2 separate regions of the Homo sapiens genome follow, and region 1 is linked to region 2. Evidence: fine-mapped expression QTL. Tissue or cell type: whole blood. Region 2 holds a variant in brackets; the other region holds the start of a gene. All regions are shown on one strand. Distances are from middle to middle.

Evidence for each region. PIP is the estimated chance that this variant, and not a neighbour inherited with it, causes the effect.
Region 1: MFSD2B starts here. The variant in region 2 is fine-mapped to the expression of MFSD2B in whole blood (INTERVAL, PIP above 0.99).

The regions. Positions count from the first base shown.
Region 1 is chr2:24,005,868-24,013,957 of GRCh38, reverse strand. MFSD2B (MFSD2 lysolipid transporter B, sphingolipid) reads right to left here and starts at 3,873. Exons shown (of 14, transcript NM_001346880.2): 1 at 3,766-3,873; 2 at 548-673. The coding sequence starts at 3,861.
Region 2 is chr2:24,165,905-24,174,008 of GRCh38, reverse strand. FAM228B (family with sequence similarity 228 member B) reads right to left here. Exons shown (of 11, transcript NM_001145710.2): 10 at 6,326-6,382; 11 at 4,371-4,653. The coding sequence ends at 6,340. LOC105374328 (a long non-coding RNA gene) reads left to right here. Exons shown (of 4, transcript XR_939833.4): 2 at 5,952-6,189; 3 at 7,446-7,567; 4 at 7,970-8,009. Among named protein-coding and RNA genes, the nearest start is that of FAM228A, 5.1 kb to the left of the region's middle. The variant G/A (reference allele first, on the strand shown) is at 4,832.

The DNA.
Region 1 (8,090 bases), 160 kb after region 2:
AGGCATGAGAATCGCTTGAACCTGGGAGGCAGAGGTTGCAGTGAGCCCCAAGATCACACCACTGCACTCCAGCCTGGGCAACAGAGTGAGACTCTGTCTCAAAAAAAAAAAAAAAAAAAGAATCGTCTTGGGCCACATATAAACACATAAAATACACTAACACTAATGATAGCTAATGAGCTAAAAAAAAAAAAAAACAAAAAAATTCATACTGTTTTAAGAAAGTTTACAAATTTGTGTGGGGCCGCATTCAAAGCCGTCCCGCCGCGGGTTGGACAGGCTTGGTCTATTATGTGGCTATGATACAGCTTACTTAGCCAACTGCTTCTATATTGTCGGGGATCTACATTGTTTCTCATTTTCCCACTACAAACAGGCTGCAGTAAACATTCTTGAGTACCTTGCCCTCATTGGCTTCTGGCTTTTTGTTGAGCTCGTGTCAGAAGTGCTGTCTACAAGGATAGTGGGAGCAGAAGCAGAGGTGGGGGTGGAAGGACCAGACCCCAAGGAAGATGCCAGCAGAGACTGGGCTACTGCCCACACTTACCTGTGCTATATCAAGCAGGAAAAGCTGCAGGTAAAAGGCTGTGGCGCTGGAGGCTATCTGGTTGGGGACCCCACCAATGCCATAGCACACCTTTGTACAGAATGAGAGGCGACCGGCTCTGCTGTCCTGGAGGAGACACAGGAACTAAGCCCTTCTCCCAACAGACACAAAACAGGTCCCCACACCCCATGACTTCAGTAAACATCCTGAGTCTCTGTGATGTCTTCAGGGCTTTTCCAGCAACCTCTCAGCCCCATTTTGCCCCCATGTCATCCTAAGAGGAAGTGAGACGAAGAGAAAAAAGATCCTAAACCCTGACCTCTAAACATTTCCAGGGGGGAAGTTCTTCTGGACATCTTACCCTGGGCTTCCTGCTGAAGCCGCCATCATTTACTGAGTCAGCACGGCCGTGTAAGCTGCAGGTCAGGAGACCTGGGCTTGAGCCTGCCTTTGTCACCTACCCCTCTATGTGACCTTGAATAAATCACATCATCTCTCTAAGCCTGTTTTCCTCATCTGTCAAATGCAACATCCCTGCCAACTTCACAAAGTTGTTTCTTCGATGAGTAAATGAGGCGATAGCTCATTTACCCATAGCCTGCCTACCCACAGCCCTCCAGGGATGCCTGGCAGGCGTCTCAGCTTAGCATGGTCTACATACAGCTCCTGATGGCCATTCCATTGTCTAATCCAGCTCCTAGCAAATGGCACCGCTGGTCCCCTCAGTGGCTCAGGCCACAAACTTAGGAGTCATCTATTCTTCTTTCCAGTTCTTGTCTATCAGTGAATGCCTCCTAAGTGGCTTCTGTGTCTGCCCTTGCTCCCTACAATCCACTCCACCCAGCAGCCAGTGCTCTTGTAATAACATAAATCGCACAGTGGCTCATCCCTATAAACCCAGCACTTTGGGAGGCCGAGGTAGGTGGATTGCTTGAGCCCAGGAGTTGAAGACCAGCCTGCCCAACATGGCAAAACCCCATCTCTACTAGAAACACAAAAATTAGCCAGGCATAGTGGCCGCCTGTAATCCCAGCTACTCAGGAGGCTGAGGCAAGAGAATTGCTTGAACCAGGGAGGCAGAGGTTGCAGTGAGCAAATATCACACCACTGCACTCCAGCCTGGGTGACAGAGACTCAGTCATAAATAAATAAATAAATAATCAGATCCCATCTCCTCTCTGATTAAAACTCTCCAATGGCTTGCTATTGCAGGGTTTTTTTGTCTGTTTTTGTGTGTGTGTGTGTGTGTGTGTGTGTGTTTTGTTTGTTTGTTTGTTTGTTTCCAGATCCATGGTATTCAGTCAATACCATTGCAGTTTGAATAAAACTCCAAGTCCTGATCATGGCTAAGGAGTCCACCCAGTCGGCCCCCTACCCACCTCACCTCAAATAGCTCTCCTTCAGCCACGCCGGGCTCCTTCCTATTCCTCAAAATCATCAAGTCTGTTGCTGCCTCAGGGCCTTTGCCCTTCCCATTCCTCTGCCTGGAAGGTGACTCCTTGTCATTCTGGTTTGATGTCACCAGCTTAAATGTCACCTCCTCCAAGAGGCATTCCCTAACCTCTCACCTCTCTCAGTTGTACTTACCGCCTGCTATATTTTCATTTAGTTCCTGCCTCTCCCTACAGGAATGTAAGCTCTCTGAGAGCATGAACTCCACCTTTTATTTATCATGGTGTTTCCAGTACCTAGAACAAAGCTTGGTATACAGTAGGTGCTTAGTATATATCCGTTGAAGCAATAAATGGCCATGAAGACCCTGTGTAAAGTGCTGTTTCTTTGGAAGAAGCTGGGCTCTTTTCTCATCGTTTGCTGGGGGCTGGAGGGAGTGGAGATGACATGGCTTCACCCATTTCCACATCTTGCAGGACACCCCAGCAGGCTCTTGTGAAGGGAAGGTCTCCCCAGATAAGGGTTTATCACACTTTGCACACTCTTCCTACCCACAGGGGAAAACCACACTGGGGGCAGGATGATTCTTTTCTGACATTTGTGTGAACATCATTTCAGCTTCCAGAAAACTTTAAGAACAGGCAGAATTCAACGTGACAGTCCCCCTCTCCCCCTAATGGGGACTCTTGTATCCCCCAAAACAGGCCTAGCAAGTTTTTAGAACTTTAGAAAGAACTTCCAAGTGAAGCCAGGGATATGATCCCATCTTGCCGTCTTGAGGATGACAGTTTTACCGAAAGTCATAAAAGCCCGGTACAGCTGTACAGTGAGCTGTACAAGGAGAAGCCCCTTGGGAGGGGCGGCTCCGGGCGAGGGGCGCAGCCCTGCTATCTCTAGCTGCGTGACCCAGGGCAGGGCACCTCGGTCTCCTTGGAGTGACCGGGGCTGCCACCCCTCGGAGAGTCGTAAGAGGATTCCACGCCGGAACTTCATCAGCAATGCGAGTGTTTCCCTCTTGCTGTTAATCTCACCCTGAATTTCTAAGTTTCCCTGGGAAGTGAGAGTCCCCGGAGAGCCCCTTCATCTCACCTCACTTTCTTGTGGGATGCAATCCTGTGCTCCCAGGTGCCTCGTAGGAAGCCCTGAACAGGCTGGGGGCTGAGGTGGTCAGGGGAGGCCACAGAATGCCCTGGGCACGAGCAGGGAGCAGGCGCGTTCAGTGAGGCCCAGGAAGCCCCAGGCCCCTTGCTCCGTCCAGCACAGCCCCACTGGCCAGCACGGCCCGGCGGCATCGGGCAAGGGACAAGGGGCCCCGAAGACCCCGCCGCTCCCACCTGCCCTCCTCCCTTCTTGTCGGAGCCCATGGCCAGGACCTTCCCTGAGGCTGCCTCCAAGGGGAGCCTGGTGCCTGGGCGAGGCCAGGGTCTGGGAGGGAGGCCGAGGCCACAGCAGCTGCCTGAGGTCGGGAAGGACGCAGCCTCCCCAGGCGCTTCAGAAAGCCCTGCCTGCCCAGAGCTCGGGGACCCCGGGAGGACCTGCGGTGGCACGGACAAGACCCCTAAGCCGGGAATCAGGACAGCAATGACCACGCATCCCCAAGTTACTTCCTTGGCTAGGGCTAGGCTTCCCGTCCTAGTCTCTTTCCGGCGCCGGCACCTACCAGCCTCCCCGCTCCCAGCCGTGTAACCCCGCGAGGGCAGCCCCTGAGCTGGCAGGTTTGGGCCGAGCCCCTCCGGGCTGCCCCCAGCTGGAAAAGGGGCTGCGAGGCGACGCCCTGGAGCTCCCCGAGGACGCAGCCCCTTCCCGGTCCCCGCCGCCCCGCTCACCTCTCGCCCTCGCTTGGCGCTCCCCGGGCCGGGCTCTGGGGCGTGCGGCTCCGGCTGCGGGGACCCCTTGGCGGCTGGTGCAGGGGGCGCCGCCATTGCCACCGCAGCGCCGCCCGCGGCCGTTGCCCTCGGGGTTATCGCCCTTGGGAGGGGCGGTTCTGGGCTAGGGGCGCGGCGCGAGTGGCTGCTGGCAACGCGGGGGAAACGCAGAAACCGCGAAGGGCACCCCAAAGGGAAACAGCGAAGAACCAAAATCCGCGGGGGGAAAGGCCCGGCAGGCCCTCAGGACCGTTCTCCTTGGGGTGGATCCCCGGGGGCGTGAGCGCCCGCAGACGGCGGCCCTGCGCGCTAAGGGCTCCGCCAGACCGCTGGGGTGACCGCGGGCAAGCAGCAGCTCCCCTGCAAAATGAAGCAAGAGGCCCGCTCGTTCAGGCTGGACCATGGCTGAACAGGCATTCCGCCGGCTACACATGATGCCCAACGCCTGAAATATACATTGTCGAGTCTCCTATACAGACCACGGGGATGGCCAGTAACTAAGTTCTGGCCAGCGAATAAAAGCAGGTGGCACAGGCCAACATTCCAGAAAAGTCCTTAAAAGGGAAGGGGGGTGACAGCAGGTAGCTAGTCAGCCTCGAAAAGGGCAGGAGAGGGCCACGCTTCCAACCAGGTACGTCAGGCAACCATCAGGCGACAGTCAGGCGGTTGTTATGCTCCCTCTAAAATGATCATTGATCCAGCGGGGCCAGGGAAAGGCAGTCTCCCAATAGATAGAGAAAACCTGAAACTGGTGATCAGCTTCTCGGTAAGATCTCAGGAGCTGGGCAAGTGGGCTTACACAAATTGCGGAGTTTAACTGACATGTGACCCTCGAAGGACACCGGACTGGTAAGGGAAGAACGCCTCCAGTGAGCATGGGTACAACTCCAGTATACACAGTGTGCACACTCCCCTCCCAAGTGCTGGCAGACCACTGCCCATGCAGGCAGGCCTCCCAAGGGAAGAATCAGGGGAGAAGGGATGCAAGACCCCAGAAGTATGCCAATGCATAAGACCCCAGGTCAAAAGGTCAAACTGTGCGCTTCTTTTTCAGGTCACCCGCTTGGCCCTCTTCCAAGTGTACTTTCCTTCCTTCCATTTCTGCTGTAGAGCTTTTTAATAAACTTTTATTCCTGCTCTAAAACTTGCCTCAGTCTCTCCTTCTGCCTTATGCCCCTCAGTGGAATTCTTTCTTCTGAGGAGGCAGGAACTGAGGTTGCTGCAGACCCATATAGATTCACTCCTGCTGACATATTTTGGTGCCACGTGACTCAGATACCTTCCACCAGTAACAGGGGTACACATTAACTAAAAATGCATCATAGACCTAGAATGTAAAACTTATGAAAAAACAGGAGCAAGGGACAGGCACGGTGGCTCATGCCTGTAATCCCAGCTACTCGGCAGGCTGAGGCAGGAGAATCGCTTGAACCCGGGAGGCGGAGATTGCAGTGAGCCAAGATCGTGCCACTGCATTCCAGCCTGGGTGACAGAGGGAGACTCTGTCTCAAAAACAAAAACAAAAACAAAACCAACCAAACACAAAAAACCCAGAAGCAACTCTTCATCATATTGGGCCAGGCAATTGTTTCTTAGGACGCCAAAAGCACAAGCTGGATGAACTACAAAAGTTTTCAAAATGAAAACCTTTGTGCTGTAAACGATTCCAACAAGTGGGTATAAAGACAACCCACAGAATGGGAGAAAAGGGATTTGTATTGGAATCAACTTTCACAACTCAACAATTAAAAGACAATCCAATTCTAAAATGGGCAAAGAATTTGGATATTTCTCTAAAGATATACAAATGAACAGTAAGCACATGGAAATACAAATCGAAACTACAGTGAGACACCATTTCATATCCACAGGGTGGCTGTAATTAAAATGAGACAAGTATTGGGGAGGATGTGGAGAAATCAGAACCCCTATACACTGCTAGTGGGAATGGAAACTAGTGACAGTCCTTTGGAAAAGTTTGGCAGTTTCTCAAAGTAAAACGTGGAATTACCACATGACCCGCAATTCCACTCTTAGGTGTATACACCCTACAGAAATGAAAACATGTTCACATAAAATCTTGAACATGAATGTTCATTAGCAGCATTCATATATATATACATATATATATAATGTGTGTGTGTATATATATATGCCAAAGAGGACACAAGCCAATGTCCATCAGGTTATGAATGAATAAATATAATGTGGTATATCCATACAATGGACTACTGTTGGGCAAGAAAAAGGAATGAAGGACCAATGCATGCTACAACACAGATGAACCTTGATGACAGTATGCTAAGTAAAAGAAGCCAGTCACAAGACTACAAATTGTATTATTCCATTTATGTCAAATGTCTAGAATAGGCAAATAGAGAGTGACAGAATGTACATTTGTAGTTGCTTGGGACTGGGCTAGGGAGTTACTGCTAAGGCATGTGAGGTTTTAGAATGGACAAACATTTTCTAAAGTTAAATTGTGATGGTTGCACAACCCTATAAATACACTAAAAACCATTGAATTGTATACTTTATTTTTATTTATTTATTTTTTTGAGACAGAGTCTTGTTGCCCAGGCTGGAATGCCGGGGCACGATCTCGGCTCACTGCAACCCCCACCTCCCGGGTTCAAGTGATTCTCCTGTTTCAGCCTCCCGAGTAGCTGGGATTACAGGCATGTGCCACCACTCCCGGCTAATTTTTGTATTTGTAGTAGAGATGTGCTTTCACCATGTTGGCCAGGCTGGTCTTGAACTCCTGATCCTCAGGTGATCCACCTCGGCCTCCCAAAGTGCTGGGATTACAGTGAGCCATCGGCCTAGCCTGAATTGTATACTTTAAATGGGTGAATTGCACAGCATGTGAATTACATCTCAATAAAGCTGTTTAAAAGGAAAGATATCTGCTTCTTCCTATTGGCTGAAATACAAATGTGTCGGCTGGTGCTAGTGCAGCTACCCTGAGACCCCAAGTCTACAGAGTGATGAGATTGGCAGATCAACAGTACAGGAATCTGATGATTTTATGAGGTTGATCTACCAGCCCTGAACTGCTTCCCTCTGGACTTTTGCATGGGAAATAAAATTTGACCTTGTAAGCAACTATTATTCTGGATTTTCTGTCACAGCTAAATCTAATCCTAAAGGATACACTACCCAGTTTAGAGCAAGTCATTCCATTTTATATGTCTTAATTCCTTAATCTACAAAATGGGTACATTTTGTTTCCCTGATTGCAAATACAAGGATAGATTAGATAATGCATGTGCTAAATATTTAATTCCTTGGAAATTAAATATAAACTAAAGCCAAAGTTTCTTTAGATAATCTACTTTTACAATTTGTGGGTTTTTTTTTTTTTTCCTTTCTGTGGAGAATAGGATCTTGCTATGTTTCTCCGACTGGTCTCGAACTCTTGGGCTCAAGCTTTATTCCTGCCTCTGCCTCCCTAAGTGTTGGGATTACAGGCGTGAGCCACTGTGTTCAGCTAGATAATCAATCTACTTTCAAGTACATCCTACTGATACGCATTTTTAAAAGGTTTGGAAATATTGCATTCTCAACACTTGTACTTTGTTGTTTATACTACTGCAATTTTAAGTTTGAAAGGCAGCAGGTAAAAACAATTTTAAAAATTAAAAAATGACTGGGCACAGTGGCTTACACCTGTAATCCCAGCACTTTGGGAAGCTGAGGTGGGTGGATCACCTGAGGTCAGGAGTTCAAGACCAGCCTGACCAACATGGCGAAACCCCGTCTCTACTAAAAAAACATAAAATTAGTCAAGCGTGGTGGCGGGCTCCTGTAATCCCAGCTACTTGGGAGGCTGAGGCAGGAGAATCGCTTGAACCTGGGAGGTGGAGGTTGCAGTGAGCTGAGATCGCACCATTGCACTCCAGCCTGGGCAACAAGAGTGAAACTCCATCTCAAAAAAAAAAAAAAAATTAAACAATAACTCTTTTGGACAGCAAAAAATGTAATTATAATAAAAGTCATTTCCCTAACAGTCAGTATTCTATTTAAAGTGATGGTAAGTTCATAATGTAATTTTTAATGCAAAAGACAAATTAGATTTCAATAAAGTAGGATTAAATAACAAAGGCAGCTGCCTTTTAATTAAAACAAGACTAAAAGCTGATATACTAAAAAATATCTGAAAGGATGCACATCAAAATGTTACTAGTAGTTTTTAATTTCTAATTTTTATTTTTTACTTTTTTCTTTTTCTTTTTTTCAAGACAGAATCTTGCTCTGTCGCTCAGGCTGGAGTGCAGCCACATGAT
Region 2 (8,104 bases):
GTGAGCTTATTCTAACATCTTTGTCATCTCAGTGCTGGTCTCTATTGAAGTCTGAACATTTTCAGTTTATATTATGAGACTCTGGATCTTATTTAAACTTTCTGTTTTAGCTGGCTTTCTCCAACACCAATCTAACAGGGTTAATGAGGTTACCACCTCATTACTGCCAGATGGAGATAGGAATCCAGGTGCCCCAGTTGGCCTTCATTGACACTTGAGGGGCCAAAGTTCCTCATTACTGCTGTGTAGACCATGATTTAGAGATTCTAGTCAGGCTAACTGAGAGACCATTCAGCAAATTACTTCCTTATATGGTATAATCTTCTCGAGAAAAGGAGCTGAATCTATCTCATCTTTACATCTTTCTCATAACATGGGACCATCTATGACTGACCCAAATAGCAGGCGAACAGAAAATTCCTGTTGAGTAGACGACATACACAGAAAAGTATAATATACTGATGGCTTAAACTACATTAAGTATAAGCAAAAGGTGATACAAAATAGGATTTTTAATTTCTACCTAGCTTCTTCCTTACTTCATTTGAAAATAAAAGTTTCCCTGATTTACTGAATCAACTTATTTCAATCTCATATGATTTAAAAGCTTACCTGAGCATTTGTCTCTTTACTTGATGTTCCCTGGCAATGTCGCCTTTTTTACATGGTGAAAATAACTGTTAAGGATTTGAAAGATTCTCCTTTCAATAGGTAGTGCTTCACTGAGTCTTCACCTAGGCTCTTGCTGCAGGCTCTGTGTCTCTTTCTACATACCACAACTAAGTCAGTTAATCTCATAGTATTAAAATCTTTTGTTACTGTTTCTCCCACTAACTTTAGGGCAGAGAGCCTATGTTGGCTCATCCTTATATCCCCAGAACCTGGCAGAGCACCTGGGAAAAACAGGCACTTAAATACTTACTAAGTGAATGATGAATAAATAAATGAATGAGACATAATCCCAACATCTACACAAAATGAAATTTCAATGTCAACATATGAAAAAAACATTTAAGAGACTGAAGACTTGTCTACCAGGAGAGCATCAAGCCTTTTGAAGCTTTGCAGTCGGCCTCTGGTTGCCATTTTGGCATAGCTAGTATTTTTAGTCATTTATAACTGTAATAGAGAAAAGCATTTCTATCCAAAAAGTCTCTTTAAATCAAAAAGTCTAGGCCAGTCATGGTGGCTCATGCATGTAATCCCAGCACTTTGGGAGGCCGAGGTAGGAGGATCGCTTGAGGCCAGGTGTTCAAGACCAGCCTGGGCAACACAATGGGACCGCGTCTCTACAAAACGTTTAAAAATTAGCTGGGCATGGTGGCAGGCACCTGTAGTCCCAGCTACTCAGGAAGCTGAGGTGGGAGGATCACTTGAGTCCGGGAGGTTGAGGCTGAAGCAAGCCATGCTTGTATCCACTCCAGCTGGGAGACAGAACAAGACCTTGTCCCAGAAAACAAAACAAAAGTCTCAATGTTTGTGAAGTGTACATGTTAACCTTAACCATAAGAACAAATTTGCACCTAGATTTTTATTTTAAAAGTATGATATAGATTTAGGCTACCTGTTATAAAGAAAACTTAAGAAATTTCTAAATTTACTTGAACGAAGGAAAGGCTATGGAGAAGGCAGTAATGACTGATTCATGGAACAGAACTGATTTACCGAGACTTTTCTCCTTCTATAAAAAGTCAAGGTGAAGTAACAATATCCCTTTAATGCTGATGTGATTTCTAGAAGTCTGTTTTGACTGATGAAGTAATATAAAAGGGAAAAAATGCCAAGAACTAGAGTATTATAAAATCCTTCAGGGTCTCCCCATAAATTCCAAACGCTTTAGCATGACCTGTAAGATTCCTGCCTGTCTTTTTGGGCTCAGCTTTCTTCAGTGATTCCTGGCCTCCTTGCTCCACATGGTGGATTAGAGATGCCTGCGTGGTCCCATCTCTGGCAAATCCCTGACTCCACTCACAGAGGTAGACTTTTTTTTTTTTTTTTTGAGATGGCGTCTCTTGCTCTATTGCCCAGGCTGGAGTGCAGTGGCGCAATCTTGGCTTACTGCAGCCTCCCCGTCCTGGGTTCAAGCGATTCTCCCGCCTCAGCTTTTCTGAGTAGCTAGGCTTGCAGGTGCCCCCCTACCATGCCCAGCTAATTTTTGTATTTTTAGTAGAGATGGGCTTTTGCCATTTTGGTCAGGCTGGTCTCAAACTCCTAACCTCAGGTGATCCACCCTCCTCGGCCTCCCAAAGTGCTGGGATTACAGGCGTGAGCCACTTCACCTGGCCAGAGGTGGACTCGATGGCAGCACCTCCCTGTTCTTCTCTGTGGCTAATTGGTCAAGGAGTGTACACCTGACCCAAGTCTAGGATCAGATTCTCCTGTCTTTCTTCTAGGATTATAGACGTCTAACCAAAACAGAGACTTGGAAAGGTGTTGTGAGTCACGTTCATGACAACAGCCTAGAAGGGTCTGAGATGCCTGCTGCTCAGGGGCCAGTGCTGTCAAGGTTCCTGCCATTCCTGTGGAATTCAGTTTTTTCTCAGGGTTCTGTAAGATGCTTTGGCACTCTTTCAATGAAATTTTTTTTTTTAATCCCAACCACTAGACCACCAGGGACCATTTGTGCTTATGTTAGCTCTGGTTAGCTTGTTACTTGCAATACAAATGATCTCAAATAATACAGAAATAGTACAAGGCTTCAGAGGAAATGTGAGATATTTGGAATTGGTATTCGTGTCAAAGTGCAGGGAAAGGAAAGGCATCTTCTCTTCACCATGTGGAATGAGCAACTATATTTGTGATACGACATCTGGGATTTGCTTCAAAGTCATCCAGTTAGGGTTGAGAAGTAGGTATGCATATACACAAAACAAGACTGGACATGAGGTAATCAGTATTGAAGCTGGATGTCAGAAACATAAGGATTCATTATACAATTATAATTATTTTTTCTGTAATTCTCTGAAATTGTGCATAGTATAAAGTTTTAAAAATCTAGTTTTCAGCCAGGTGCAGTGGCTCATGCTTGTAATCCCAGCACTTTGGGAGGCTGAGGCGGGTGGATCGCTTGAGCCCAGGAGTTCAAGATCAGCCTGGGCAACATGGTGAGACCTCATCTCTACAAAAAATACAAAAAATTAGCCAGGCATGATGGCGTACACCTGTAGTCGTAGCTACTCGGGAGGCTGAAAGGCGGAGAATTGCTTGAACCTGGGAGGTCCAGCCTGCAGTGAGCCATGATCATGCCACTGCACTCCAGCCTGGGCAACAGAACGAGACCCTGTTTCAAAAAAAAAAAAAAAGAAAGAAAGAAAGAAAATCTAGTTTCACTTAGAACCATATATTGATTAGGGGTGAGATGTTGGGAGACTAGATAACTGTCAGGGTAGAATAATTTAAAGAGGATGAGGAATATGGAATGAGAGAAAAATGGATAATTTAAAGCAAGATAATATAAAGCTCAGATGCCAGAATGTGCAAGGCATTAAAATATAGGGCCACTATTTTTAATAAATCTTATTCCATCTGTGGCCCTCAAGTTCATAAATTGATCCTGTAGGTTGCTGAATTGCAATTCCAGATGGATTAACATTGCTGCCAGTCTTTTATATGAAATCTAGGGCATTGACTAGGAAAGAGGGGGATCTTGGAATTATATATATTTGGGGAACAGACAGAACTGAAGAAGTCAGACTCCCCCAAGTCTTTTGAAAAGGTTACCATGGTGTCCCTTTGCCTAAGGAAAACAGAATTCCACTCTTCTATGCTCTGTGTCCTACTGTGTCTTCCTGTGACCAAGATTCAAACTCAACATGAGCCAGAGGGCAATGTTTAGAATCAGCAAGTGAGTAATTATACCCTAAATGAATTTTTTTTTTTTTAAGATGGAGTCTTGCCCTGTCACCCAGGCTAGAGTGCAGTGGTGCAATCTCGGCTCACTACAGCCTCCACCTCCAGGGTTCAAGCAATTCTCATGCCTCAGCCTCCCAAGTAGCTGGGATTACAGGTATGTGCCATCACACCTGGCTAATTTTTGTATTTTTAGTGGAGACAGGGTTTTGCCACGTTGGCCAGGTTGGTCTCGAACTCCTGACCTCAAGACAGGTGTTCAGATGGAGGCCGAGGCGGGTGGATCGCTTGAGCCCAGGAGTTCGAGATCAGCCTGGGCAACATGCCTCAGCCTCCCCAAAGTGCTGGGATTACAGGCATGACCCACCTCACCTGGCCAACCCCAAATGAATTTTTAAATTTTCTAAAGAATGTTGGGAAAACCTGGGGAGGATATGTGGATGTGGCCATGAAGTGTGCATGACCAAAGGGAGCATACCTTAATTGAGGAACAAGCCAAATATACAGAGATGGACACTTAGTGAGGGAGCTGTAATTATTTTTATTGGTTCGTTCAGCAATATTTCTTAACTTCTGGGGAAAATACATGGTATTGCCATTTCTTAATTATCACAGACACTGAACTCAAAAATTAAAGGAAGTTCGTTGCAGATGCTTTTTTTTTAGAGACAGGACAATTCTTGAGTGCCGTCCTTGGCCTTCACCCTGATTCCTGTGAGCAGATGACTTCCTCTGAAGCAGCCTGATTTTGTGTATCCTTTCACCAATCAAGGATCAGGGTGTGTGCTCCTTGGTTGCTGAAACCTTTTGAAGGTGACAAAAGGGAAGAGTTGAGTGTGGTATGGGGATGAGGGGCTTACGAGAGCAGAAAGCGTTCCCCAGCTAAGCTGAGCTGATCCCCCTGAAGCCTGTCCTGCCAGAGCCGAGTGACTCATCTCTCAGGCAGGGTCTCCACCTAGGCCTCCTGCCTCAGCCTTTCCTC[G/A]CGCTGTCTGGAGTCAGAAGCACTGAGAGATTCAGGGACATGGTCAAATAGATGGGGTGGATCACTGATGTGTGACATGATTTGAGGGAACCCCTGTGGTCTCAGCTTTCAGATGTCAACATGTTTGGAGTACTAATTTCCACTTGGATTGTTGTGATTTAGAAAATACTAGGTTCCTTTCTTCCCTTTTCTCTTCAAACCTCTAAATTCTCTATTCTGTGCCTCGCGATCAGCTGATGATCTCACTTGAGAAAATGAGTAAACAGAAGGAAACAATCTTCCTTTGCAAAATCCACTGAGCTAGTTTGACCTATATCCATGTACTCAGCCTTCCCTCTTCATACAATGGATAGAGTGTCCTGTCCACCTGAGTCCAGGGTGCTGCCTCCTCACCTGTGGAAGGACTCTGCCCTTCTATTATACCCCCTCTCTCTCCAGCATCATCAAATCTCCCTCTCTATGGGAGCATTCCCATCAGGAAACATACATGTTATAATATCAATATCGCTGATAAAAATATTCCCTTACCTTACCTTCTCCAGCCACTTTATAGCAAAACCCCACAAAAGCATTGCTTATTCTGTCTCCACTTCCTCACCCCAATTCTCTCCTGAACCCACTCTAATCAGCTTTCATTTCAGCTGCTCCACTTAACCTCTCTGATGAAAATCAGCAGTTAGGCCTATATCTCCCCAGTCCTCATTTTACCTCCCTCTCAGCAGCATTGCCACATGGCTGGGCATGCCCTCTTTTCTGAAACCCTTTCTCTACTGGGCCTCTGCAGCAGCACATACTTCTGCTTTGCTTCCTTCCATACCAACCTCTCGCTCCATGAATGTTCCTTCACCAGCTCTGCCTCCTTGCCCCAACCTCTAAATCTTGGCGTTCCGCAGGACTAACCCTCGGCCTTCTTCTCTTTGACACTCACCCCCAGGTGATTGCATGATTTCACATAGCATCTATATGAGGATGACTCTCAAAAACCTGTCTCCACCCCCAGTCTCCCCTGAACTCCAGACCGGTACATCCACCTGCCTACTGTATATCTCCTCTTGGGTATAGGATGAGCATCTACAAAGATACTGAAATGGATCTAATTTTAGTCTCAGTATCTCTTTAGGTGATAGAGGCTATGTTCCTAAGTGAAGAATGAAGTAGTGGCAGTTCCATCAGATGCTTAGAGCCAGAGACAGTCCTAAGCAAACACCTGGAAAAGAAATCCGGTGAGAAATTCCAAGCAATAGGAATTTTCTCTGAAGATCACTTGGAAGTGCCCCATGAGAAAAACCACTAGCTTCAAACCCCTGCCAAGCCCAGAGAATGCCTTACACTGAAATAGATCATCATAAAATTAATAGGTAAGAACTTTCCTACCCACCCATTATTTCTCTTTCCTCCCTCCCACTGTGGACTCTGAAGATATCAGAAATCACAGTGGCAAGAAACAGGGGTAAGGAATAGGAGAGTAAGAAGGGAAAGAGAGAAGACATCTACCTCCCTCTTCTTTCTTATAGCTCCAGCTTCAGCAGCCCCAAACGCGGGGAGGGAGACCTTAAATGAAGATTGAAGCTTTGGTCATTATGTTATACGAGACTGGCCATATTAGTTACTGAACAGACTGTCTTCATAACCAGAGGCTGTTTATTATCTGAGAATGCCCAGGGCAGGAGAAGAACCAACCCCAACAGAACAGGTTTAAATGGACAGTGAGGGGAAGAGTTCATTTGCTCTAAAATCACACCCTACAAATCCTCCTCCGGTATTATAATGATTGCAATGGAATCAGCCCCAAACACGGTTATTCCTCACTTCTGCACTTCTCTCCCTGCAAACCTGCTTTCCCCCTAGACCTCCCTAGGTCAGTGACTAGAACCACAATCCACCCAGGCCCCTCCGCACTGATTTCTCGCTTTCACCCACTTCCACGCTAACAAGGGAGCTCTGCCAGCTCCTCTCCACCCACGCTGGAGCCTGGAGCCCTCGCTCTCACCTGGCCTGGAACCCTCAACTGCCTTGACGGCCCTGCCTCGGCTCCAGCATCAGCAGTTGCTTATGCGGCAGCCATGTTCTTTGTACAATGCTGATTAGATATGATTTCCCCCCTACTCCAGACCTCCGCACAGCTTCCCCTCACACTTTGAATTTTATTCTAACTCCCTTTCCCGGCCTGTAACCCCAACCTGCCTGGCTCCTGCCTCTGCTCCAGCCTCACCTCCCGCCCTCTCTCAGCACTCACTATCTTCAGCCTCCCCACTTTTTCTTGCTGTTTCCTGAACACACCAGCCTCACTCCCATCTCAGGCTTTTGCCTGGGCCCATCCATCTGCGCAACACTCTTTCCCCAGATCTCTCCACGCCTCACTCCCTGGGTTCCTCAGCCTGCTGCACAAACGTCATCTCAGAGGAGAAGCCTCCTCTGACTTCTCCACCTAAAACAGTCCTCTTCATTCGTCCCCCACTCTCCCACCCCACCCCCTCTACCTGCTTTGTTTTCCTTATTACTAACTCACGTGATGTTATGTGTTTATTTGGTTGACTACTGTCTATTTCCCCATCAAAATGTAAGCTCCAGGAAATCGGAGCCGTCTCTGTTTTGTTTCCCACTGTGTCTCCAGCCCCTCAAACACTGCCTGGCTCAGAGTTGGCGCTTGTTAAAATTTTGAGGAAGCAAGCAAGCAAGCACATGGGAGGATACCAAAACATGGCAGTAAAAGGAGCTAAACACACAAAAGAAAAGGTTAGTAAATTTTCATGAATGAGTAAAAAAAGTAGCACCCCTGTCCTTTAAGGGTAGGAGTGGGGAAATGGAGAGACAGTCAGAAAGGAAGATGGCAAGATTGAAGGATACTCAGAAGACAGGCCATTCACGTGCTGATTTCTAACTGGGAGTGGGGAGGAAGGCCATGACTTCTCGAATACACTCCTAAGAGGCTGACTCTGGACAAGAGAACTGGAGGGAGAAGCTCCACCTAGACCCAGAAATGGTAGGCTGGGCTATCTCAGTCAAATGGCCACCAAGTTTAACCATCATTACCTTAGGATGAGAAATCTATGTTCTGTAAACACCTATATCTATCTATCTATCTATATATATGTGAATACATACATATATATATATATATATTTTTTTTTTTTTTAGACAGAGTTCTGCTCTTGTTGCCCAAGCTGGAGTGCAGTGGCGTGATCTCAGCTCACCGCAACCTCCGCCTTCCAGATTCAAGCGATTCTCCTGCCTCAGCCTCCTGAGTAGCTGGAATTACAGGACTCCATCACC